Linked DNA regions of Homo sapiens: all the other regions are linked to region 3. The links come from fine-mapping of genetic effects on plasma protein levels. A gene starts in region 3. Each other region holds a variant in brackets. All regions are shown on one strand. Distances are between the middles of the regions.

Region 1 (5,127 bases), 140 kb after region 3:
CACCTGCAACCTCGGCCTCCGGGGCTCAAGGAATCCTCCCATCTCAGCCTCCTGAGTGGCTGGGACTACAGGCATGTGCCACCATGCCTGGCTAATTTTTATGTTTTTTGGTAGAGATGAGGTCTTGCCATGTTGCCCAGGCTGGTCTCAAACTTCTGGGTTCAGGTGATCCTCCCGCCTAGGCCCCCCAGAGTGCTGGGATTACAGGCGTGAGCCACTGCACCTGGCGAGGGCAAGTGCACTTTAAGAGGGGTCCCTGGTCCCCAATCCCAGCTTGCCTGCTGACTCGCTGTGTGCCCTTAGGCCCCCTCTCCTGGCCTCAGTTTCCCCATCCATGAGGTTTGGACACTGGGTATCTCCAGTGGGGCCAGGAGGACTCACAGTACACGGTCAGGTTGATGGGCTCGCTGCGGCTGACACTGACCGGGTTCCACACCTCACACTGATAGGCGCCGGCCTCCTCCCGGCGGATGCCATGCCTGGCCAGCACCCGGCCGTCAGGGGACAGGCCCAGGCGGAGAGCGACGGGCAGGGCCCCACCGTTGAAGAACCAGCGGACCTCGGCGGTGGGGCTGGGGCTGCTGCACATAAGGCGCAGGGTGTCTCGACGTTCCACCAGCGCTGTGCTGTTGGCCAAGACTGTGGGCTGGGCCAGGATCTCTGTGGGGGCAAGAGACAGAGGGGGAGGGGGCCGGACACCACCTGCTCTGAGGGCCTTCCCTTCCCCCAACAAGGGGCATGGCCGGATTGTGGCTGGGCCCCCACACCCTCAGCCGGAGGGACAAAGAATGGTTTTAGGAGGCAGGTCTAATCCTGGAGGCCATCTTGAAGGAGGTGAGCATTTTGAGGTTATTTTAGAAACTTATTCCCTGATGGTTTCCCTGATGATTTGTTGGATTTTTTTTTTTTTTAAAAAAAAGAAGGATTGAGAAGGAGATGGGAAGGCCCAGCTGGGGCAGAGGCGGGTGTTGGGGGGTGTCTCACCATGGACCTGCACGTGTCCGTAGCCCACCTCGGTCTGCAACTGCCTGTTGAAGGTCTGCAGGATGTAGGTGCCTGAGTGCCGGGGCAGGATGCCCTGGATGTCCAGGCTGCCATCGGGGCGCACAGCCTCCCGCCCCGTGTGGGCCGGGCCAGGAGTCTCATCGCCTGTGCTCACGATGTAGCTGGCCACCAGGTATGACACGCTGAGTGTGGGCCCCGCATACCAGCTGTAGGCGAGCAGTTCCCCCGAAAGCCCATGGACGACCAGCGTGACGTTGTCCCCTTCGCTCGGCTGGGCAGGCTCCAGGGTGATAGAGATCTCGGCCCCCACATTCAGGAATGTGGCTGAGGAAGAGGAGTCAGAGGGGTTGGATGAGGCAGGTTTGATCAATCGCCCCATTTGACAGAAGAAGAGACTCAGGCTCGGGGCATGTCCCCAGCCCAGTGTCCTCTGTGTAAATGAGGACAGGCAAAACCAGGATTTGAACCTGCAACTCTGACTCTCAACATCTCAGCCACCTAATCTTTCTGGGAGTTTATCTGCATGGCTTCGAGTACACTGTCTTTCTCTGTGTTTCTGTTCTTCCAACTCTCACATGGGGATGACAGGTCTACCTGCCTGGTAAGGTTGTAAGGATTCTGTATACATACCATGCTTACAATGCCTGGTATACAGTAAGTGCCCAATACATGTTAGTCAGATGCAGGAGCTCAGTCCCAGGGAGGGACTCAGTCCGAGGGAGGGAGGCGTGTGTTGTGAGGATTGGGTCTGATGGACTGTGCCAAGGATCTAGCATCACATCTTGCATACAGCAAGTGCAAAGCAAGTGCTCGGCCCACAGGACCTGCGGCTTTAAGCCGGACCCAAAGGGTTTTCCCATCGTGACAGTCACCAAACTAAGTCTCGCGAGATCCGGCTGCGTATCCAGCCCAGCTAATTGTATGGCCCCACGTAGGATGTCAGGGCCTGCCCCCTGGGTCCTGACTCCCAGTCTGGGGCTCTGCCTCTGCCTCTCCAAGCTCGCCTACAGCGGAAAGCAGGGGTAAGATGAACACACTCCACCCCTTTCCTTCTCAACCAAGCAG[A/G]TCAGCCCCAAGCCCGATGAGCTGGTCGGGGCTGCTTGGGTTTGAATGACGTGTGGTTTGAATGCCCGGAACGGGCGGCTGTGACAGTGCTCACGTCAAAAGGACTGACATGGCTGGCCAGCTTTCTGGTACTTTCCAGGCTGTTAGAGTGTGGCTAGGAGTGAGGGTCTCTGGGTCTAGCCCTCAGTCCTGCCACTCTCTGGCCGTGTGACAGCGGCCAATGGTTTCACCTTTCTGAGCCTCGTTTTCTCCCTATGAAGTGCGGTTCATGTGTGGGCCTCCCTCATAGGTGGTTTGGGGTTGTTTTTTTTTTTTGAGATGGAGTCTTGCTTTGTTGCCCAGGCTGGAGTGCAGTGGTGCAGTCTCGGCACACTGTGACCTCCACCTCCTGGATTCAAGTGATTCTCCTGCCTCAGCCTCCCGAGCAGCTGGGACTACAGGCATGTGCCACCACACCTAGCTAATTTTTTGTATTTTAGTAGAGATGGGGTTTTACTATGTTAACCAGGCTGGTCTTGAACTCCTGACCTCAGGTGATCCGCCCGCCTCGGCCTCCCAAAGTGCTGGGATTAGTGGTGTGAGCCACCTTGCCCGGCCCCTCATAGGTGGTTTTAAACCATGAGAAGCTCTCAGAACAGCTCCGGGCACACGGCATATGTGGTGCTGCTTATAATGACCTTTACATGACCCTGTCAGTGAGGCCCCATTCACAGGTGGGTACACAGAGGCTGAGAAGGGAAAGGCAACTGCCCTAAGCTACATCTTCCGGGAGAAACAGCTGCTGGGAAGAGTTTAGCCTCATCAAGGCTTCCATAGCTGATAAAACAGAAACCTGCAGGAATGAAGGAGCAACAGCGGCTCCCTTGTCCTGGCTTGTGCCCTGGGCTTAGAAATCTCCAAAGCCCACCCTGAAAACCTCTCTGGGTGGCTGTCCCCAGCCTGCCCAATGCAGATGCCTCTTGGAGGGGTAAACTGCCGGTGTGAAGCAGGGCTGCCCTCCCTCCCTAGCACGCTGGACTTCTGCTCACACCTTCCCTCTCTCAGACTGGGGGTCCCCTCCCCTCCCTGGGGTCCTCGGGGGGCTGAGGTGCTGGGGGGTGCCATTCTCGCTCACCACTGAGGAGCAGCCAGCTGTACCCAGTCAGCGCCATCTTTCACCCCAAACCGAGTCTTGGAGATGGTGGCGTTGAAGTCCCAGTGCTCGGACTCCCTTCCTGGTTGGGGCTCGGCTCCGTCTGCCGCAGGACCTGGGAGGGTTTGGTGATTTGGAGCCAGGGGAGATCACCTGAATTTGGAGGGATCGAGTCACCAAGGATCTGGGGCCCGGTTTGGGTACCAGGGTGGGTGTGGCGGGCACCGGCCAGAGGCCGTGACCTGGGCAGGCCTCCTGGGGCAGCCGCCTAACCCTCTTTGTGCCGAGGGCCTGGATTTGGTACTGGGAGAGGAACCAGGTCACCGAGGAGAAGAGAGGAAAAGTAGGGGAAGGTTTTCGGGTAGTTCTTACCAACCACCCAGGCCCGTGGCCTCCTCAGAGAGCCTGGGAGTCACCAAGGAAGAAAATCAGTAAAAGGTGACTGCACCTTTCCCAGCCCCACCCAGTGCAGGGGACCTACAGGTGTTGTCTCAGCGGATGGCAAAACAACCCTGTAAAGTGGGCACCTTTAGGACCCCCCTTTGCAGATGGAGATGAGCTAGGTGGGGACTCCCACTTGTCCGGGTTCCTGCAGGGAGAGGGGATTTGAGCCCTGCTCTGTGTGCAAACCCAGACAGAAGGGCAGGAAACTGTATGGCCACATGCTTTCTTTGGGGCTCTCCTTCTTGTTGGCTTCCTGCAAAGTGCTCAGAAGTTCACATTCTCTTTCTCCCACTTCGGAGGCCTTGTTTTCCCCTCTCTGTCAAATGGGCGTATTCGGAGGCTTTGGGGCCAAGGAGAGCTGAGTTTTGACACCAGCTCTGCACTTACCCAAAGTGGGGCTGGGGACAGTCCCTTGTTGAGTCTCCATTTATTATTCTGATAAATAGAGATGATGGCCGGGTGCACTGGCTCATGCCTGTCATCCCAGCACTTCGGGAGGCCAAGGCAGGCGGATCATTTGAGGTCAGGAGTTCGAGATCAGCCTGGCCAACATGGCGAAACCCCATCTCTACTAAAAATAATAATAATAAAAATAGCCAGGCGTGGTGGCAGGTGCCTGTAGTCCCAGCACTTTGGGAGGCTGAGATGGGCAGATCACCTGAGGTGAGGAGTTTGCAACCAGCCTGACCAACATGGCGAAACCCCGTCTCTATTAAAAATATAAGTTAGCTGGGTGTGGTGGCTAACGCCTGTAATCCCAACACTTTGGGAGGCCAAGGCAGGTGGCTCACGAGGTCAGGAGTTCGAGACCAGCCTGGCCAATATGGTGAAACCTCGTATGTACTAAAAATATAAAAAATTAGCTGGGTGTGGTGGTGTGCACCTGTAGTCCCAGCTACTCGAGAGGCTGAGGCAGGAGAATCTCTTGAACCCAGGAGGTGGAGGTTGCAGCGAGCTGAGATCACACCACTGCACTCCAGCCTGGGTGACAGAGTGAGACTCTATCTCAAAAAACAAAAGCAAAAACAAAAAATAAAAGTTAGCCGGTCATGGTGGCACATGCCTGTAATCCCAGCTACTAGGGAGGCTGAGGTAGGAGAATCGCTTGAATCCAGGAGGTAGAGGTTGCAGTGAGCCGAGATCCTGCCACTGCACTCCAGCCTGGGTGACAGAGCAAGACTCCATTTCAAAAACAAACAAAAAAATAGAGATGATATGGACCCTACTTCAGGTTTGTTGACAGCAGTTAGTGAGAGGCTACAAGTCAGGGATTTAAGCCAGAGCCTGGTGGACGTGGGTCTGATTGGTATGCCTGTTATTAAAAGTATAGGCTCTGGCCGGGCGTGGTGGCTCATGGCCGGACGCAGTGGCTCATGCCTGTAGTCCTAGCACTTTGGGAGGCCGAGGTGGGTGGATCAACTGAGGTCAGGAGTTCAAGACCAGCCTGGCCAGCATGGTGAAACCCTGTCTCTACTAAAAAT
Region 2 (5,127 bases), 80 kb after region 3:
TGAGATCACGCCACTGCACTCCAGCCTGGGCGACAGAGCGAGACTCCGTCTCAAAAAACAAACAAACAATGAAAAAAAGAAAAGATGTGTTCTGTTTACCTCTCACACTCTTTTTTTTTCTTTTTGTTTTTTGAGACAGTCTCCCTCTGTCGCCCAGGCTGGAGTGCAGTGGCTGAATCACAGCTCACTGCAACCTCTGCCTCTGGGTTCAAGCAATCCTTCTACCTCAGCCTCTCAAGTTGGTGGGTGCCACCATACCTGGCTAATTTTTGTAGAGATGGGATTTTGCCATGTTGCCCAGGCTGGTCTTGAACTCCTGGCCAATCCACTCACCTTGGCCTCCCAAAGTGCTGGGATTACAGGTGTAAGCCACCGTCCCCTGACTCTGTGTGTGTGTGTTTGAGGCAAAGTCTCTCGCTGTCACTCAGGCTGGAGTGCAGTGGCATGGTCACAGCTCACTGCAGCCTCAACCTCCTGGGCTTAAGCGATCCTCCCACCTCAGCCTTCTGAGTATCTGGGACTGCAGGCACGTGCCACCATGTTCGGGGTTAGAGCCGGGGTCTACCCATGTTGCCCAGGATGGTCTTGAACTCCAGGGCTCAGTCTGTCCTCCCACCTCAGCCTCCCAAAGGGTTGGGATTACAGGTGTGAGCCACTGTGCCCGGCCAATGCTCTTAAAGTCACTTTTTGGAATGTCCCAGGCATTTAGAATCTGGCAGATTTCACACACGCATCTAGGAGAGATGTCCTCTGTCTTTCTGGGTTTACTCAATGTGGTGAGGACAAGCGAGTGGAGCCCCGAGAAATGCATTGAAGGTATGACTTCTGGCGTTAGAGCTGTCCCCGGAATGCTGGGACTGTCACCCATGAGGAGCTTTGGAAGTTGAGGGGTGAGTGATTGAATTATTATTATTATTTTTCTGTCACCCAGGCTGGAGTGCAGTGGCACGATCTTGGCTCACTGCAACCTCCCCCTCCCAGGTTCAAGCAATCCTCCCACTTCAGTCTCCCTAGTAGCTGGGACTACAGATGTGTGCCACCATATCCAGCACATTTTTGTATTTTTAGAACAGACGGGGTTTCACCATGTTGGCCAGGCTATGAGTGCTTAATTCTGTGAAGGCTGGGAGGCTGGAGACCCCAAGCAGGACCCTTCCTCCATCTTTGGAGTCTGCCTTTCTCCAGCGGAAGGGGGAAGACTGTGGAAGGACATGTGCCTAGTCCCAAGGTCTAGGAGGCTGAGTGGGGATTTCCATGTGTACAGAGGCCAGATCCCTTGTTTTAGAGAAGTTACTTATAAAGTTCAGTGCTGGGTTCAGCTCTCAAGCCCCGGGACGGTTTCTCATACACGAAAAGCCACATCACCCACAGCCTAGACCCACAAGCACAAGAGGACTTCCAACACACTCCAGACTGATGATGGGCCAGGTCCTGGGCTAAGTGCCTGACACTCACACTCTCATTAAATGCCCAACAACCCATCAACCCCAAGGGGTCGGGGGGATTCCCTTCTTACAGGTGAGGAAACTGAGGCTCAGTGTGGTGAAGTCACTTCACCTTGAGTCATTTAGTCATTTGGTGGCAGAGCCCTGGTTGTGACAGATACATGTGCGGCCCCTCAATAACCATTCTCTCCTCTTCCTTTTGTAGCAGAACCCCTGAATTTTGGCTGGGTACATGCTGCCCAGATAAAACCACATTTCCCAGCCTCTGTTGTGATAGGTGTGGTCATGTGACTAAATTCTGGCCAAATAGGATGTGATGTGTATGATGTGTATGACTTCTGGGTTGTAGCTTTAAAGGTAGGGGCATGCGATTGACTTTTGTTTCTTCTTCCCAGTGGTTGGAATGTGGATGTGATGGTGGGAGCTGGAGCAGCCATTTTGGACCACACAATGGAAGTGTGAGGTGAGGGCAGCAGAACAACCAGGTAGAAGGAGCCTCGATCTCTGACATCCTTGGCTACTATTCTAGATGCGGGTGTTCGCTGGGCCTTTACATGAGAGAAAAATAGACTTTCATCTTATTTAAGCTACTATTGGGTGGACGTGGTAGCTCATGCCTGTAATCCCAGCACTTTGGGAGGCCAAGGTGGGTGATCACCTGAGGTCGGGAGTTCAAGACCAGCCTGACCAACATGGCGAAACTCCATCACTACTAAAAATACAAAAATTAGCCGGGCGTGGTGGCAGGCTCCTGTAATCCCAGCTACTCGGGAGGCTGAGGCAGGAGAATCGCTTGAACCTGGGAGGCAGAGGTTGCAGTGAACTGAGATTTTGCCACTGCACTCCAACCTGGGTGACAGAGCAAGACTCTGTCTCAAAAAAAAAAAAGCTACTATATTTCTTCTTTTATTTATTATATTTTTAA[A/G]GACAGGGTCTCACTCTGTCACCCAGGCTGGAGCATAGTGGTGCAGTCATAGGTCACTGTAGCCCTGACCTCTCGGTGTCAAGTGGTCCTCCTACCTCAGCCTCCTGAGTAGCTGGGACTACAGATGCACGCTACCATGCCTGGTTAATTTTTGCGTTTTTTTTTGTAGAGATAGGGTTTCGCCATGTTACCCAGGCTTTTGCCATGTTACTCAGGCTCTTTGTTTTATATATTTTTTAAAGATAGGGTCTCTCTCTGTTGTCTAGGCTGGAGTGCAGTGGTGCAATCATAGCTCATTGCAGCTTCAAACTCCTCTCGGCCTTTTTTTTTTTTTTTTTTGAGATGGAGTCTCCTCTGTCACCCAGGCTGGAGTGCAGTGGTGCGATCTCAGCTCACCGCAAGCTCCGCCTCCCAGGTTCACCCCATTCTCCCGCCTCAGCCTCCCGAGTAGCTGGGACTACAGGTGCCTGCCACCACGCCTCGCTAATTTTGTTTTTGTATTTTTAGTAGAGACGGGGTTTCACCATGTTAGCCAGGATGATCTGGATCTCCTGACCTTGTGATCCGCCTGTCTCGGCCTCCCAAACTTCTGGGATTACAGGCGTGAGCCACTGCACCCTGCCTCAGCCTTTGAATAGCTAGGACCACAGGCACCTAATATAATTTTTTTTTTTTTATTGTAGAGAGAGGATCTTGCTATGTGGCCCAGGCTGATCTCAAACTCCTGGGCTCAAGCAATTCTCCTGCCTTGGCCTCCAAAAGTGCTGGAATTACAGATGCGAGTCACTTCACTCTTTCAAGAGATGGGGTCTCACTACATTGCCCAGGCTGGTCTCAAACTCCTGGGCTCAAGTGATCCTCATGCCTCAGCCTCCCTCCCGAGTAGCTATGACTACAGGTGTGTGCCACCATGCCCAGCTATATTATTTAATTTAATTACAACCGTGGAATAAAAAAAATGTAGCTAAAACACACATCTAGGCTATGACCTCATTGTTCCATTTTTCTACCAGGACAAAGAATAGGTCTCATCGTCTCTACTGTGTTTCCTCTGACCTCAAAACTGTCAAAAATTCTTAGATGATGGCAACAGCAATTCCCATTTATGAAGCTCTTACTCAGCACCATGGCCTGTAATAAGTATTGCACAAAATTTACTTCCCCCCACCTTTTTCCTTTTTTGAGACAAGGTCTCTCTCTGTCACCCAGGCTGGAATGCAGTGGCGCAATCTTGATTCACTGCGGCCTTGACCTCTTAGGCTCAAGTGATCCTGCCACCTCGGCCTCCCCAGTGGGTGGGACTACAGGCGTGCACCACCATACCGGCTAATTTTTGTTTTTTTTTTGGAGAGACAGGGTTTCACCATATTGCCCAGGCTTGTCTTGAACTCCTGGGCTCAATCGATCTGCCCACCTCCAGCTCCCAAAGTGCTAGGATTACAGGCGTGAGCCACTGTGTCCCGTTCATATTTTTTTTTTTTCGGTTTGGACAGGAAGGAGGATTTATTGGTGGGTGTGAGTAAGCAGGGCTCGCCACTATTCCAGGGGCCTATGATTGGGGATGTATCTGATGCCACAGCCATCCAGGATGAGCTACTTCTCAGCCACCGTGTCTTCACATTCATCTGCACTAAACTTGGTAAAGTCCCACCGCCTTGAGATGTGGGTCTTCTGGTGGCCAGGGAGCTTGAACTTGGCCCTGGGTAGGGCCTCAATCACGTGTTCCATGTTCTGCAGCTTGGTGCGGATGGACGTGATGCCTTAGCCAATGTGAACCCTGGCCACCACACCCTGGGGCTTTCCAAAGGCGCCTCGCATACCTGTCTGGAGTCTAGACTGGGGTGAGGTCAAGATCAGAAACATGAACATGCATCGGAAAGGGCTATCTCCAAGGTCTCTTAAGGCCACCGCTACACGCAGCAGGCTGCGTATACTACTGAGGGCACTGCTGTTTGCCGCCACTGCATAGGAGGAGAGGAGCACAATTAGCTTGACTAGTGTTCATGTTTAAACCTTGGAGCAAACCTGCAAGTTGCTCTAAGGATTAAACATAAATATTGGCTGGGTGCGGTGGCTCATGCCTGTAATCCCAGCACTCTGGGAGGCTGAGCCAGGAGGATCTCCTGGGGTCGGGAGTTTGAGACCAGCCTGACCAACATGGTGAAACCCTGTCTCTACTAAAAATACAAAAAATTAACTGGATGTGGTGGCGGGTGCCTGTAGTCCCAGCTACTCGGGAGGCTGAGGCAGGAGAATGGCGTGAACCCGGGAGGTGGAGCTTGTAGTGAGCTGAGATTGCGCCGCTGCACTCCAGCCTGGGCGACAGAGCGAGACTTCATCTCAAATAAATAAATAAATAAATAAAATTAAAAATTAGCTGGGCATGATGATGCATGCCTGTAATTCCAGCTACTTGGGAGGCTGAGGCAGGAGAATTGCTTGAACCTGGGAGACGGAGATTGCAGTGAGCAGAGATTGCACCACTGCACTCCTCCAGCCTGTGCAGCAGAGTGAGACTTAGTAACAACAAAACAAAACAAAACAAAACAAAACAAAACAAAACAAGAGACAGGATCTCCCTCTGGCACCCAGGCTGGAATGCAGTGGCGTGATCATAGTTCACTGCAGCCTTGACATCCCGGGCTAAAGTGATGCTTGAACCTCAGCCTCCTAAGTAGCTGGGACTGCAGGCACACACCACCAGGCTCATGCTCAGCCAACACATTTTTTGATCTTCTGTAGAGACAGCGTCTCACT
Region 3 (5,124 bases):
CCTTCATCTGGTATCTATGTCTAGCTCCCTTCCCCCACCCTCCTCCGTCCCATTCCAGTGTCTTTCAGCCTCATCCCTGTGTCGGTATTTCACTCCCCCGACCCTGTGCCGGCATTTCACTCCCCTTCTATCCTCTGATTCCATTCCTACACGTGTCTCTGACCCCATTCCTAAATCTGTGTCTGACCGCTTCCCTCTATTGGCCTCTGTACCCATCCTTGTAGCTCCAGCCTCTCTATATACCCACCCCCCAACTTCTCCTCTGCCCAGTCCCCCTTCCCTAATGAGAGGAGACAGCCAGGCTGCCGTCCCTCTGCTCCCCTCCCCCTCCACTACGTGGGGCTGCCTGGCGGACATGGACACACGGATGGGCAGGGAAGAAAGCTGGGGGAGGGGAGCCGGCCCAGCTGGGGGCCCAGGTGGTGCACCCGCATTCCCCGAGGAGGCCAAGCGGGGGAGGCAGTGGAGCTAGACAGGTATACAGAGAAAGACGGAGAGGAGAGAGAGAGATGGGGAGAGGAGAAGAGAGAAAGAGCTTGGAGAGGGATGGAGAGAGAAAGGGTGAGAAACGAAGAGAGATGAAGAGGGGGAAAGAAAGTGAGGGAAGGAGGAAAACAGGGAGGGGGAGGGGAGAGAGAGAGAGAGGGAGAGCGAGCACATGCCAGCCGGCCAGCCAGTGGACAGCAGAGGCGAAGGATTGGGGTGGGGGTGGTCAAGAAAGGGGCCGACAGCTCCTTCTCCAGGGGCTAAGAGGTTTCACAGGGAATCAGTGGGGCCTGGGAGCCTTCCGGATGGTCCGCAGGGAAAGGATTGTTATCTCAGTTTTTTTACGAGGGAGGAAATGGAAACTCAGAGGCACTTCCTGGAGCCCACCCGGTGCGGGGCTCTGAAGAACCGGAGCCCGGCTTCCCCGGGACCTGCTGTGAGACCTTGAGAAGGCTGCTTGCCTTTGCTGAGCCTGTTTCCTCATCTCTAAGATGGAAACAGAAACAGGACCTGTTTCCCAGGGCAAGCTGGAGCCTTCGGTGAGATCATGCACCAAGCTAACAGTAGGCTCAGGGTCTGGTGGGTTCGGAGAATTCACCCAGAGGTGCCAGTTCTGATCTCATCTGCCTATTTCTGCCTGAAGGGAGAGGCAGGGGATGGAAGCGGAGTTCCCAGCTCTGGGTCAAAGCTGGGAGGCCAGTGAGAGCCATCCTGGGGGAAATGAGGCCAGAGAGGTGGCCGGGGTTCCCCCAAGATCCCCCTGAGCTCTCTTCTGCGCAAACCCTCGGGAAACTCTAGCATCCCAGAGTTTGTCGCTGGGAATACACAACCGGGTCACCTGCAAGGGGCGGGGCCAGCGCCTCTTTCAAGGGTTCCCTCCCAGCCCCTCCCTCCCCAGGGGGGCCGCTCTCCTCCCCTAGTGGGGTGGATGGAAGGACGCCAGGGGGTCCAAGGCATAGCAATGGGAGGGACGGGGGATAAGGGCGGCGGCTCCACTCGTCCACCTCCTGCTATGGCTCTGAGGACAAAGGCGCTACCAGAGGATAGATAAGGTCCCGAAACCGGGGAGTCCGGAACCCGGAGCCAGGAGCGCCCGCCCCGCCCCTCCCTGGCTCGGCGAGAGTGAAACCAGGAAAACTTCCCCGGCGACGTCTCCGTCGCCCCCGACCATTCATAGGGAAAGGGAGGAGTCTCCCAGCCTCTGGGACTCGGGGCCTCCCGTTCTATCTGGGACTCAGGCGACTGAGACTCCAGCCTCAAGACAGAGCCTTCGACCCTTGATCATATCTGGAGCCCAAGAGACGGGGCCCGCTGCTCGCACTTCTGTTTGGATCTCAGAAGACGTTCCTCTGCCTACAATTAAGTCTGAAGCCCACGAGATCGAGTCTCCTGTCCCCCGGTTCTGCCGGGAACCCTGAAAACGAAGCCCCCTGCCCACAATTAAATCCAGAAGCTACAAGTTTGATCCTCTCTCGCCCCCAGTTTTACCTAGATCCCAGTTAGACTTAGCGCCTAGCCTCCATTCTACCAGGGACCCTGAAGACGGAGCCCCCGGCCCCTAATTTTTCTGGAGTCCACGGAGTCAGAACCCCCAACTCCCTGAGGTTCGGGGTTGGAGCTCCGAGCTCAGGCCCTTCCCCCTAAGTCGCCAGAACTCTTATCCTTAGCCCTCCAAGGGACCCGAATCAGGTCCGCTTGTCCTCAGTTCTCTCCGGGCCTCAGACGCCCAAGCCGGGAAGAAGGAAAAATAGGGGAGGGAGGTGGTCTCGCCTCTTCCTCGAGACCTTACTGCGGTAGGTGGGGGGAACATTCCCCACATTCCTGAGAGGGGTAGAGGAGACAGAGACCCAGATCCGGGTGAACTACTCGGCGCGGGGTGGGGAGGGGGCACCAGGCCTTCCTGGGATTTAACCCTTTCGGCGCGGGAATCCGAGAAATGGGGAGGGGGACAGACAAGCAGGCGTAGGATGGGCAATTGGATTAAGAAGGATGGGGGTGGTGGTGAGAGAGATGCAGAAAGGAGGGGTCAGAGTCTCCTCGAGAGAATCGGACGTGTAGGGGGTCGGAGTCTGTGGGGCCAGCCAGGAAGGGGGCACGCGAGAGGGGGCTCGGGGAGCCGGGGGTGGGCGGGGAAGGTGCTCGGCTTCCCCAGCTCGGAAGGTAAGGTTGGAGGGGGTCCGCGCGAGGGCAGGGGGCCGTCCGCTCGTCTCACCGGTTTCCAGGAGCAGCAGCAGCAGCAGCGGCCACAGCAGCGGCGTCGGCGGCGATCTCGACGGCAGGAGGGCAGCGGCCCGGGCCATGGAGGGCCCGGGAGGGGACTGGGCCCGGCCGGAGGCCCGCGGGCCACTCTGTGGGGGCCGATCGGCTGGGCGGTTTAGTAGGTGCCTGTGGGGCTCCGGCTCCGGCTCCGGGCCGGTTCCCGCTGCGCTCTAGCCTCCCTGTTCTGCTCTCCCGGCCCAGCTCTCCCCGCCCGGCTCGGCACCCCCGGCCTCTCGCTCAGCTCCGGCGGTTCGAACCCGCTGACGTCACAGGATCCACCCGCTGCTCCCCCGAGTCAAGCCGACCCTGGCTCCGGCCCCGCCCCCTCCTGGCGTTCTGACCCCGCCCCCCGGATTCCACCCCTGTTCCTCCCCGGGATTCCATTCTCGCTCCTCCCCAGGATTCTAAGGTCGCCCCTGCCAAAGAATTCTGTCTCCTTCGCTCCCGGCGTTAAACCACGCCCCCTAAGGTCTAGCCACGCCCCCTCTGCTCCCGAGTAGTTCCCACGCCCCGCCCCCTGCCTACCGGCCGCCTCGCCAAGGTCTTGCCACGCCCCTTTCGGCCCTTCCGGCCGACTCCGCCCCCACCAGCCCCGCCTCCACCAGCCCCGCCCCTCGCCCTAGCCGGAGTTCTCTCGGTCTCTTAGCTCAGTCCGTCCTGGCCTCTGTCCCACCCACAGTTCGAATCCTGCCCTTTCCTGCCTGCCCGGGTCCTCTCATCACAGTTGCCTGAGGCACGTGGGGCTTTACGGTTCTGCCCCCAGCACGTCCCGGTTGTGCGACCTCCCCGCAGGTCGAGCCCATCGCCCTGAGCCTGTTTCTCGTACCCTCGTGCGTTTCTAATCTCTGCCCCGAACTCTAGGTGTCGCTGCACTCGTTTCTTTCTGGATTTCTCTGTCTCTCTTACGTGTCTTTGTGTCTCTCTCACTCTCTTTGGGTCTTCCTCTCTGTCCCTGTATTTCTGCCTCTCTGGGTCTTTCCGTCCTCATGCTTCGGTGTCGCTCTGTTTCTGGTCTTCCTTTGTCAGTCACTGTTTCTTTATTTCAATAAAAGAGACGGGGCGGGGGGGCGGCGGGGTCTCACTATGTTGCTGAGGCTGGCCTCAAGCGATCCTCCCGGCTCGGCCTCCCAAGATGCTGGGATTACAGGCGTGAGCCACCAAGCCCGGCCTGTCTGTCACTGTTTCTGGGTCACTTGGTCCCCATGTCTCTTTCCATCCTTTGACTCTGTCTCTGTGTCTCTCTGTCTCTATCTGTGTGCCTCTCTGTCTCTGTCTCTATTTCTGTGTATCTCTGTCTCTATCGGCCTGTCTCTGTGCCTCTCTGTCTCTGTGTGCCTCTCTGTCTCTGTGTTTCTCTGTCTCTATCTCTGTGCCTCTCTATCTCTGTGCTTCTCTGTCTCTGTCTCTCCGTGTGTCTCTCTCTGTCTCTATCTGTGTCTCTCTGTCCCTGTCTCTTTCTCTGTGTCTCCCTCTCGGCGTCTCTTGTCTCTGCGTGCGAGTCTCTCTCGCTGTCTCTCTGTCCCTGCTCTGTTCTCTGCTTCCTTCCCTCCCTACCTCCCTGCGCGCCCTGGTCCTCCCCTCCCAACACCTGCTCCGCGCCGCCTTCTCACCGCAGCCACCCGCCAGGGGGCAGCAGAGACCGGCCCCCGCGCTGCGCTGGCCCGGCCGGGCTGGGTGGGGCTGGGCTCCAGTCCGGCCTCCGGACCTGGTCACTCCCCGCGTCCTTGTCCCACTTCCCCTATCTCCCCAGCCTCCTCGCGTCTTTGTGTCTCTCGCTCAGACTCGGGCCCTTTGTCTCTCCCAGCGGCTCGCCCTCCTCCCTACCCCCACCTACCTCTTCGCATTCTTTGGGCTGCCCAGGGGGAGCTGGTGAGGCCGCGCCGGGGGGCGGGATGAGGGCGCGAAGCGGGAGGCCGGGGGAGGGGGTGCCACGGAGCGCCAGTCTGGGCCCAAGTTCGTCCAGGGCCAGGAGGCGCGGAGCTGCTCAGCTGGGGGCAGGTGCTTGGGGGCTTCTTGCCCTAGCAAGAGGACCACCTAGGCTCGCCCTCCCTTCCACCTGCCACACACCTGGGCTTTCCTCCCCAGAAGGACTAGGTTTCAAGTAGCAGAGGCTGTTATCCCTCCGCATTCGAGTCTTAGTTATGATCCTTTTTTTTTTTTTTTCTTTGAGACGGAGTCTCGCTCTGTCGCCCAGGCTGGAGGGCAGTGGCGCGATCTCGGCTCACTGCAACCTCTGCCTCCTGGGTTCAAGCGATTCTCCTGAGTCAGCCTCCTGAGTAGCTGGGATTACAGGCGCGCGCCACCACGCCCGGCTAATTTTTGTATTTTTAGTAGAGACGGGGTTTCACCATGTTGGTCAGGCTGGTCTCAAACTCCTGA
Region 4 (5,000 bases), 12 kb before region 3:
GATGATTAATGATGTTGAGCATTTTTTCATGTTTGTTGGCTGCCTGTATGTCTTCTTTAGAAAAATGTCTCTTCGGGTCCTTTGCTCATTTTTTACGTAGTTTTTTTTTTTTTTAAACAGCTTTATCGAGATATAAATTCTTACGCTACACAATTCACCCATTTAAAGTATACAATTAAGGCTGGGTGCAGTGGCTCACACCTGTAATTCCAGCACTTTGGGAGACCGAGGTGGGTGGGCCACTTGAGGTCAGGAGTTTGAGACCAGCCTGGCCAACACGGTGAAATACCCTGTCTCTACTAAAAATATAAAAATTAGCCGGACGTGTTCACTTGAACCCAGGAGGCGGAGGTTGCAGTGAGCCGAGATCGCGCCTCTGCACTCCAGCTTGGGTGATAAAGTGAGACTCTGTCTTGAAAAAAGAAAAGAAAAGAAAAAACAATATATATATATAATTTTTTTATAAAAAAGTAAAATAAAAAATACAGTACAATTCAGTGGCTTTAAGTATATTTGGAGTTTTACATCTGTTACTATAATCAGTTTTAAGGTATTATTTTTTGAGACAGGATCTCACTCTGTCCATGCTGGCGTGCAATGGCGCGATTTCTGCTCACTGCAAACCGTCTCTGGGGCCGAAGTGATCCTCCCACCTCAGCCCCCCAAGTAGCTGAGACTACAGGTGCGAGCCACCAAACCCAGCTAATTTTGTATTTTTTGTAGAGATGGGGATTCATCATGTTGCTTAGGCTCCTGAGCTCAAGCGATCCACCTGCCTCGGCCTCCCAAAGTGTTCGGATTACGGGCATGAGCCACTGCGCCCAGCCTGGGCATTTTTATAATTCCCTAAGTAACCCCCTTATCCATTAAGCAGTCACTTCCCATTCCCCCAGCCACGATGCAACTTTCTGTCTCTGTTGATGTGCCTGTTCTGGACATTTCATGTAATAGACTATGTAGCCTTTGTGTCTGGCTTCTTTCACTTGGCATCTTGTTTTCCAGGTTCATCCATCTGTAACACGTGTCGGCGCTTCACTCTTCTTTAAGGCTCAATAATATTCCACTACATGGACGGACCACATTTTGTTTATCCATTCAGCCGCTGATAGGCATTGAGGTTGTTTCAACTTTTTGGCTCTGATAAATAAAGCTGCTGGGATCATGCAAGTTCAAGTTTTTATGTGGACGCATGTTTGCAGTTCTCAGCCAGCCTAAGTGGTTTCTCACCTTTTTTTTTTTTTTTTGGAGACGGAGTCTTGCTCTGTCACCCAGGTTGGAGTGCAGTGGCACGGTCTCAACTCACTGCAACCTCTGCCTCCTGGGTTCAAGCGATTCTCCTGCCTCAGCCTCCTGAGTAGCTGGGATTACAGGTGCGAGCCACTACGGTCCGGCTGATTTTTGAATTTTTAGTAGAGACCAGAGTTCACCATGTTGGTCAGGCTGGTTTCAAACTCCTGACCTCAGGTGATCCACCCGCCTTGGCCTCCCAAAGTGCTGGGATTACAGGCGTGAGCCACGGCGTGTGGCCCATGTTTTCTCACTTTTAATATAAACAAGAACAAGAACAAATCTTCCTCTGCTGTGCACGGCAGTACAGCATGGCGACTGAGTGGCCCATAGTTCATGGGTTTGAATCCTGGCTCTGCGACCTTGTGCAGGCCACTTAACCTCTCTGTGCCTCAGTTTCCCCAGCTGTGATGTGAGGTTAATAATAGTGCCTGCGTCCCAAGGGCTGTTTAAAGATTAAAGAATAGCTGTGGAACACTCAGCATAGGGCCCCAGGAAATGAGAGGTCAGTGCTTGCTAAGTAAACATAGGAAGCTCAGTTTAATTACAGGTGGCCTTGGCACTCAGCCCCCAGGCCAGGAAAGGCCAGGGCACAAGCCTCATTTCGAGGGCCAACACCACTGCCCAGCTCTGTCTGATGGAGATGGGCCATGGAGGCGGTGCACAGGCCCTGGCGTCATACACACAGGAACCCCAGGGAACACCATCCTAATGAGTAACTCTTATGAGGGGTCCCCGGTGGAAGGCAGTCCCCTTGGGTGGGGACAGGCCGAGGATCTTTGGGTAAGAAATCATCAGTAAATTATAGCAATACAAGAACAGAAATTAAAAATAAAATAAGGCCAGGTGTGGTGGCTCACACCTGTAATCCCAGCACTTTGGGAGGCCGAGGCAGGAGGCTCACTTGGGGCCAGGAGTTTGAGACCAGACTGGCCAACATGGCAAAACCCCATCTCTACTAAAAATAGAAAAATTATCTGGGTGTGGTGGCAGGCACCTGTAATCCCAGCTACTCAGGAGGCTAAGGTGGGAGAATTGCTTGAACCCGGGAGGTGGAGGTTGCAGTAAGCTGAGATCATACCACTGCACTCCAGCCTGGGTGACAGAGAGAGACTCGGTCTCGGGAGGGGAAACAAAAAGAAAAGAAAGAAAGAAAAAAGGCTGGGTGCTGCGGCTCATGCCTGTAATCCCAGCACTTTGGGAGGCCGAGGCGGATGGATCACCCTGAGGTCAGGAGTTCGAGACCAGCCTGGCCAATATGGTGAAACCCCGTCTCTACCAAAAATACAAAAATTAGCTGGGCGTGGTGGCGGGCCCCTGTATTCCCAGCTACTTGGGAGGCTGAGGAAGGGGAATCACTTGAACCCAGAGACCTCGCCACTGCACTCCAACATGGGCGATAGAATGAGGCCCTGCCTACCTTAAAAGAAAAAATGTAAATAAATATAAAAAAAAAAGCCATCAGCGAAGACTGAAGTGTGACATAAATACATCATCTCCACACAAGTCCCACAAACTCAGGTGTGTCACTTGGGGGAAACAAGTCAAACAAACTCAGGTGTGTCACTTGGGGGAAAAATGAGGCTTTTCCAGTCCAGAGGGGCCACCCCCACCCAACTTGAGAAAAGAAAAATAGCTCAGATCAGTCTGAGCTATGCGAAATGTATCAGGCCCAGGGAGACTGTACAGTGAATAGGGGACTTCGGTCACACGCCTCCTCCACCCATGCCCGAGGCAGTGGTTCCTGCACAGCTGCCCTCCCCATTAGCTTCTTGTTCCTGGAATTTGTGATACAATAAACAGTGCATAGCCAAT[C/T]AATACCTTCTGTTATCTTTTTTTCTGAGCCAGACCTGCAGATACCTTATGCTGTTTCAATGTAAATTCTTGGTAACAATTTAGGAACTCTCTCTTCTTTGTTCCTTAAAAATCCACTTGCAGACTGGGTGCGTTGGCTCATGCCTGTAATCCCAGCACTATGGGAGGCCGAAGTGGGTGGAGGATCACTTGAGGCCAGGAGTTTGAGACCAGCCTGGACAATATAGTGAGACTTCATCTCTTAAAAAAAAAAAAACAAAAACAAAAACCCGGCACGATGGCTCACGCCTGTAATCCCAGCACTTTGGGAGGCCAAAGCAGGTGGATCACCTGAGGTCAGGAGTTCGAGACCAGCCTGGCCAGCATGGCGAAATCCCATCTCTACTAAAAAAATAAACATTACCCGGGCATGGTGGCAGGTGCCTGTAATCCTAGCTGCTAGGGGGGCTGAGGCAGGAGGATTGCTTGAACCCGGGAGGTGGAGGTTGCAGTGAGCAGAGATTGTGCCACTACACTCCAGCCTGGGCAATAGAGCAAGACTCCGTCTCAAAAAAAAAAAATAGCTGGGCAAGATGGCTAGGGCCTGTAGTCCCAGCTACTAGGGAGGCTGTGGCAGGAGAATCACTCAAGGCCAGGAGCCCGAGAAACTGACGCTGCAGTGAGCCATGATCACACACTGCACTCCAGACTGAGTGACAGGGTGAGACCCTGTCTCAAAAAAAAAAAAAAAAAGTCCACTTGTAATCACAGCTAGTCAAAGGGTTTATTTGGGGCAACTTGAATCCACACTCCGGGGTGGCCATCCTCAAGCTTTAGGCTTGAATAAACTCTATACTTAATCCTATTTTCTGAATCTTGTTATTTAACGCTGACACCCTTTCCAGCTGGCAGCCTTGTCTCCAAGCCCAACTTCCTCCATCTGTAAAATGGGGATGTTTCAGCCACCCTCCAGGGTCCCTTGTGCCAGTTCCAGGGAAGGACTTGCTCATGGGGGATGTTCACGGGGCGTGGCCCAGGTGAGCAGAGCAGCAGGGGTCAGCCGCCTGCTGCAGGCCAGATCTGACTGTGGTGCATGTTTGCTTTGGCCCACAGAGTGTTATTTCAGTTGGGAAGTAGCAGCCCACACAGAAGGCCTGGAGATTGCTGTCTAAAGCTCCAGACAGAAGTCCGGATATGTGGCTCCTGGGGGCAACAGCTGGGTGGGGCTGAGGAAGGACATCACCCCCCTCCCACAAGGCACACTCCCTTCCGGCTCCTCCAGATTCCCCAGGTGCTGGGACTTATCACCCGCCTGGCCCCCAAAGGCACTAAGGTTGGGATCAGGGTGGTTAAGCGCTCTGGCCCCTTCCTAGCTAGGCAAGGGGGGAAGGCCACTCAATGAGGGTCAAGGAAAGCCATTTGGGCCTGTGTGAACTGCAGAGACAGCAAAGTAGGCTGGGGCCGAGGAAGTTAGTTTCCTCTTTGTGGCAAGTGGGAGCCGTTGCGGGTTCTTCAAATAGAGAATGACTTAACTTCATCCAAGGAGGCCTGAGGGGAAGGTGGTGGGCTGAGCAGAGATAGATGACCAGACAGCAAAATGACACAAAAAGTTGGCAATGAAAAGAACAAGAGGTTAAGACTGAGACTGAGTGTTGGGGAGGAGGCTAATAGGTCTTAGGATTTTATTTTTTTGAAACACATTCTCGCTGTATCACCCAGGCCAGAGTGTAGTGGCGCCATCTTGGCTCCCTGCAACCTCTGCCTCTGGGTTCAAGCAATTCTGCCTCAACCTCCCGAGTAGCTGGGATTACAGGCATATGTCACCACACTCAGCTAATTTTTGTATTTTGAGTAGAGACAGGGTTTCACCATCTTGGCCAGGCTGGCCTCGAACTCCCGACCTCAGGTGATCTGCCTAC
Region 5 (5,127 bases), 18 kb after region 3:
ACAGGTGTGAGCCACCTTGCCCGGCCGAAGTTATTTGTTTTTTTTGAGACAAGTTCTTGCTGTCACCTAGGTTGGAGTACAGTGGTGCGATCATATCTCACTGCAGCCTCCCTCTTCCCGCCACAGCCTCCTGAGTAGCTGGCACTACAGGCTCGTGCCACTATACTCAGCTAGTTAAAAAACTTTTTGCTGGGCGCGGTGGCTCACTCCTGTAATCCTAGGACTTTGGGAGGCCAAGGCGGGCGGATCACGAGGTCAGGAGTTTGAGACCAGCCTGATCAACATGGTGAAACCCTGTCTCTACTAAAAAAAATACAAAAATTAGCTGGGTGTGGTGGTGTATGCCTGTAATCCCAGCTACTCTGGAGGCTGAGGCAGGAGAATCGCTTGAACATGGTAGATGGAGGTTGCAGTGAGCCAAGATCACACCACTGCACTCCAGCCTGGGCGACAGGGTGAGACTCCATCTCAAATAAAAAAAAAAAGTATAATATAAACCATATGCCAATCACAAACAGAACCAAAGTTATATGTTAGCATTAACATTTTTTTTTAGAGTGAGGTCTTGCTGTGTTGCCCAGGCTGATCTCAAACTCCTGGCCTCAAGTGATCCTCGTGCCTCAGCCTCCTGAGTAGCTGGGACTAGGCATGAACTACTGTGCCCAACATTTTTTTGTTTGTTTGTTTGTTTTTGAGATGGAGTCTCACTCGGTGTCCCAGGCTGGAGTTCAGCGACACAATCGCAGCTCACTACCACTTCCACCTCCTGGGTTCAAGGGATGGGCTGGGTGCCCAGCTATTTTAGGATAAATTTTCAAAGAATGTGCATGGCTCAAATGAAGAAATCTAAAATATCTTTCTAAGGTATTTAAAAGAAAATATGAATATTAGTAAAAATGGTCTATGCATAGAACCCAGAAACTAGAAAAGAACAAAATCAAGCAAAAGTATTAATACTTAGGATGATGGAAGTAACTTGGGTGGGTTTGGGGCAAGAGCTCCTTAAAATAAGAGAGTCTGAAAGACATTTCTGGCTAGGTGCTATTTTGAGCCAAAATCTGCAGTATGAGAATGAATGAATTACGTGAGGATCTGTAGTGAAAGATTTCAGGACAAATGAAGGGTAAGTTTGAGAGTCCTGGTCAGGTGTGATGGGTCATGCCTGTAATCCCAGAGCTTTGGGAGGCTGAGGCAGGAGGATCTCTTGAAGCCAGGAGTTCAAGACCAGACTAGTCAACACAGAGAAACCCCATCTGTAAAAGTTTTTTTTTTTTTTTTTAATTAGCCAGCTGTGGTGGTGCATGCCTGTAGTTGCAGCTACTGAGGAGGCCGAGGTGGGAGGACCTGCTTGAGCCCCAGGGTTTGAGGCTGCAGTGAGCTATGATCACACCACTGCACTCCAGCCTGGGTGACAGAGCGAGACCCTGTCTCAAAAAAAGAAAAAAAGAGGTAGGAAAGAAACAAAATATTCAAGGGCTGGAGAGACAGACTGTCTGATAGGATGCAGGCAAGGAAAGTGAAGCTAGGGATGGCAGAGAGAGAGGCACTATGCACGCAGCCTTTTGTAGGAGTTTGAATTTTATTCTAAGAGAAATGAGAAAACCTGAGTCACAGACGGGTTTCTAATCTGCTATTTATTTATTTATTTATTTATTTATTTATTTTTGAGACGGAGTTTCACTCTTGTTGCCCAAGCCAGAGTACAATGGTGCGATCTCTGCTCACCGCAACTTCTGCCCCCTGGGTTCAAGCGATTCTCCTGCCTCAGCCTCCCAAGTAGCTGGGATTATAGGTGCGCACCACCACACCTGGGTAATTTTTTGTATTTTTAGTAGAAACGGGGTTTCACCATGTTAGCCAGGCTGGTCTCAAACTCCTGACCTCAGATCATCCACCTGCCTCGGCCTCCCAAAGTGCTGGGATTACAGGCATGAGCCACCGTGCCAGGCCTGGTTTATGTTTTAAAAAAGCATAAATTTCGAGAATACGCAGTACACGTATGCATTAGGACGCTCCTGGAAAAGTATAAAATTATGTTTAAAAGCAGTTATAGGCAGGGCATGGTGGCTCATGTCCATAATCCCAGCACTTTGGGAGGCTGAGGCGGGCAGATCACCTGAGGTCAGGAGTTTGAGACCAGCCTTGCCAACTTAGTGAAATCCCATCTCTACAAAAAATACAAAAATTAGCTGGGCCTGAGGGCAATGCACCTGTAGTCCCAGCTACTGGGGAATCTGAGGTGGGAGGATCACTTGAGCCCAAGGTCGAGGCTGCAGTAAGTCATGATTGCACCATTGTACTCTAGCCTCGGCGACAGAGCCAGGTCCTGTCTCAAAAACAAACAAACAAACAAACATACATGAGAGCAATGGGTCAGCCTGGGCAACAGAACAAGACTACATCTTAAAAAAAAAAATTGGCCCGGCATGGTGGCTCACGCCTGTAATCCCAGCACTTTGGGAGGCTGAGGTGGGCAGATCATGAGGTCAGGACATCAAGATCATCCTGGCTAACACGGTGAAACTCTGTCTCTACTAAAATTAACTGGGCATGGTGGCATGCGCCAGTAATCTAGCTACTCTGGAGGCTGAGGCAGGAGAATCGCTTGAACCCGGGAGGTGGAGGTTGCAGTGAGCCAAGATTGCGCCACTGCACTCCGGCCTGGGCGACAGAGCAAGACTCCATCTCAAAAAAAAAAAAAAAAAAAAAAAAAAAAAAAAAAAAAATTGGCCGGGCGCAGTGGCTCACACCTGTAATCCCGGCACTTTGGGTGGCCGAGGTGGGCCAATCACCTGAGCTCGGGAGTTTGAGACAATTCCGGCCAACATGGTGGAACCCCGTCTCTACTAAAAATAAAAAAATTAGCTGGGCGTGATGGCATGTGCCTGTAGTCCCAGTAACTCAGGAGGCTGAGGCAGGAGAATCGCTTGAACCCGGGAGGTGGAGGTTGCAGTGAGCCGAGATCTCGCCACTGCACTCCAGCCTGGCGACAGAGCGAGACTCCGTCTCAAAAAATAAATAAATAAATAAAGAGAATTGACAAGTGAAAGTATTGCCTATAAGATAATTTCTTTTTTTTTTTGTGAGATGGAGTCTCGCTCTGTCGCCCAGGCTGGAGTGCAGTGGCATGATCTCAGCTCACTGCAAGCTCCGCCTCCTGGGTTCACGCCATTCTCCTGCCTCAGCCTCCCGAGTA[T/C]CTGGGACTACAGGCGCCCGCCACCACGCCCGGCTAATTTTTTGTATTTTTAGTAGAGACGGAGTTTCACCGTGTTAGCCAGGATGGTCTCAATCTCCTGATCTTGTGATCCGCCCGCCTCAGCCTCCCAAAGTGCTGGGATTACAGGCGTGAGCTACCATGCCCAGCCCCGCCTATAAGATACATTTTAAAGTTATTCTGTATTTTATAGAGCCATATGAGCTTGGTGTTTTATTTTTTTTTTAACTTTTACCATTTTAGATTTAGGAATTCCACTTTAAAAGGATGGGAAGGGTGACTGAAAGGTAACGTTTAAATTTTTAATTGATGTGAGTATTAGAGCCATCAAAGATTGCTGTTGAGCATTTGCTTTTATAAGTGCATTGATCCAGGTGAAAGAAGATGTATGTTTGGACTGATGGCCGTGAAACCATTTGTAGAAAGAGCTAGCTGCAGCTCTATGCCCTGTGGCAGGGTATAGAGTTAAAAGGTTTATTGAATATGGGAAGCCGGGGGATAAGTGGTCAGGAAAGAGAGCTGTATGGGAGGGGACCCATGGGATGTGCCTTTGGGTTATGTGAGTGGGAGGTAAAGGAAATGGAGGAATCCAGGATAAATTCTAAGTTTTGGGCTCACCCAGCTGGAGGGCAGGGATACCATTTATGCGAGAGGAAAGACTGGAGGTCGATTTGGGACATAATAGGTTTGAGGTATCTATGTGGATATCTGTCTGTCTATCTATCATCTATCTGTCTATCTATCTATCTATCATCTATCTATCTATCTATCTATCTATCTATCTATCTATCTATCATCTATCTATCATCATCTGTCTATATCTATGTAAAGACAGGGTCTCACTCTGTCACACAGACTGGAGTGCAGTGGTGCAATCAAGACTCACTGCAGCCTCGAACTCCCAGGCTCAATCAACCCTGCTGCCTCAGCCTCCTGAGTAGCTGGGATCACAGGCATGCGCCACCATGCCCGGCTAATTTTTTGTATTTTTAGTAGAGACAGGGTTTCACTATGTTGGTCAGGCTGGTCTTGAACTCCTGGGCTCAAGCGATCCGTCTGCTTTGGTCTCTCAAAGTGCTGGGATTACAGGCATGCCTGGCTACCCCCTGCCTGGCTATTTTTTTGTATTTTTAGTAGAGACAGGGTTTCGCTATGTTGGCCAGGCTGGTCTTGAACTCCTGGACTCAAGTGATTCACCCACCTCGTCCTCCCAAAGTGGTAGGATTACAGGCGTGAGTCACGGCACCCAGCCTGAGATAAAAGCTTTATAAGATTAGAGGTTAATATTCCTGGTGTGTAGAGAGATCCTGCAAATTAATAAGAAAAGGTAAAAAAAAAAAGAGAAAAGTAGGCAAGAGTATACCACAGTTCATAAACAAGAAAAGCAAATGGCCAATGAACATACAGAGAAACACCATTTTCACACTAGAGGTCACGGAAATTCAAATGAAAACAAATTAATATGCCATTGTGGTGAATTTGTATAATTCTATATTGTCTTAGCATCCATTCTGAATATGTTTAACTTTCTCATGCCAAAATCTGGACTTAGTTATCCTTGACACAGTTTCCAGCTCTATACTTCCTCCCAGTCCTTCCTCCCTCCCTCCCTGCCTCTCTTCCTTCTCTCTATTTCTTTTTTAGAGACAGGGTCTCATTATGTTGTCCAGGCTGGTCTCAAAATCCTGGCCTCAAGCAATCCTCCTGCCTTAGCCTCTCAAAGCACTGGGTTTACAGGTGTAAGCCATCATGCCCGGCTCTCCTTCCAGTTTCTTACTGGAGTTGATCAAGGTATCAGCTTTATCTCACCTCCTCCTGTATGGGACCATCTCTGTATGGGACAGCTAGATAGATACAAACTACTTGACCCAAGCTACTGATCCCCACACCTCCAATGAATGGACTGTGCAGAT

Which allele goes with the higher level. Alleles are on the strand shown, and positions count from the first base shown. The strength of an association depends on the size of the effect and on how common the allele is. Not every link is listed here.
As copies of G replace A in region 1, the plasma level of the protein whose gene starts at base 3,015 in region 3 goes down (strong association).
In carriers of allele A in region 2, the plasma level of the protein whose gene starts at base 3,015 in region 3 tends to be higher than with G alone (moderate association).

Evidence for each region. PIP is the posterior inclusion probability: the model's chance that the variant is causal. Protein levels are from antibody-based Olink assays in UK Biobank. Linkage for the fine-mapping came from a reference panel and not from the study's own genotypes, which makes the PIPs less certain.
Region 1: its variant is fine-mapped to the plasma level of the NECTIN2 protein (UK Biobank, PIP above 0.99).
Region 2: its variant is fine-mapped to the plasma level of the NECTIN2 protein (UK Biobank, PIP above 0.99).
Region 4: its variant is fine-mapped to the plasma level of the NECTIN2 protein (UK Biobank, PIP above 0.99).
Region 5: its variant is fine-mapped to the plasma level of the NECTIN2 protein (UK Biobank, PIP above 0.99).

Annotation. Positions count from the first base shown.
Region 1 is chr19:44,699,551-44,704,677 of GRCh38, reverse strand. CEACAM16 (CEA cell adhesion molecule 16, tectorial membrane component) reads right to left here. Exons shown (of 7, transcript NM_001039213.4): 2 at 3,185-3,317; 3 at 985-1,329; 4 at 382-660. The coding sequence starts at 3,221. The region is part of intron 1 of CEACAM16-AS1 (CEACAM16, CEACAM19 and PVR antisense RNA 1); the gene reads left to right. Among named protein-coding and RNA genes, the nearest start is that of CEACAM16, 3.0 kb to the right of the region's middle. The variant A/G (reference allele first, on the strand shown) is at 2,071.
Region 2 is chr19:44,764,224-44,769,350 of GRCh38, reverse strand. It overlaps the pseudogene LOC124900431. Among named protein-coding and RNA genes, the nearest start is that of MIR8085, 8.1 kb to the right of the region's middle. The variant A/G (reference allele first, on the strand shown) is at 2,371.
Region 3 is chr19:44,844,188-44,849,311 of GRCh38, reverse strand. NECTIN2 (nectin cell adhesion molecule 2) reads right to left here and starts at 3,015. Exons shown (of 9, transcript NM_001042724.2): 1 at 2,699-3,015. The coding sequence starts at 2,786. RefSeq lists an enhancer at 323-1,305 and silencers at 2,945-3,044, 3,175-3,254, 3,335-3,384, 4,252-4,651.
Region 4 is chr19:44,856,070-44,861,069 of GRCh38, reverse strand. The region is part of intron 1 of NECTIN2 (nectin cell adhesion molecule 2); the gene reads right to left. Among named protein-coding and RNA genes, the nearest start is that of NECTIN2, 12 kb to the right of the region's middle. The variant C/T (reference allele first, on the strand shown) is at 3,103.
Region 5 is chr19:44,825,916-44,831,042 of GRCh38, reverse strand. No RefSeq gene overlaps it. Among named protein-coding and RNA genes, the nearest start is that of NECTIN2, 18 kb to the left of the region's middle. The variant T/C (reference allele first, on the strand shown) is at 3,197.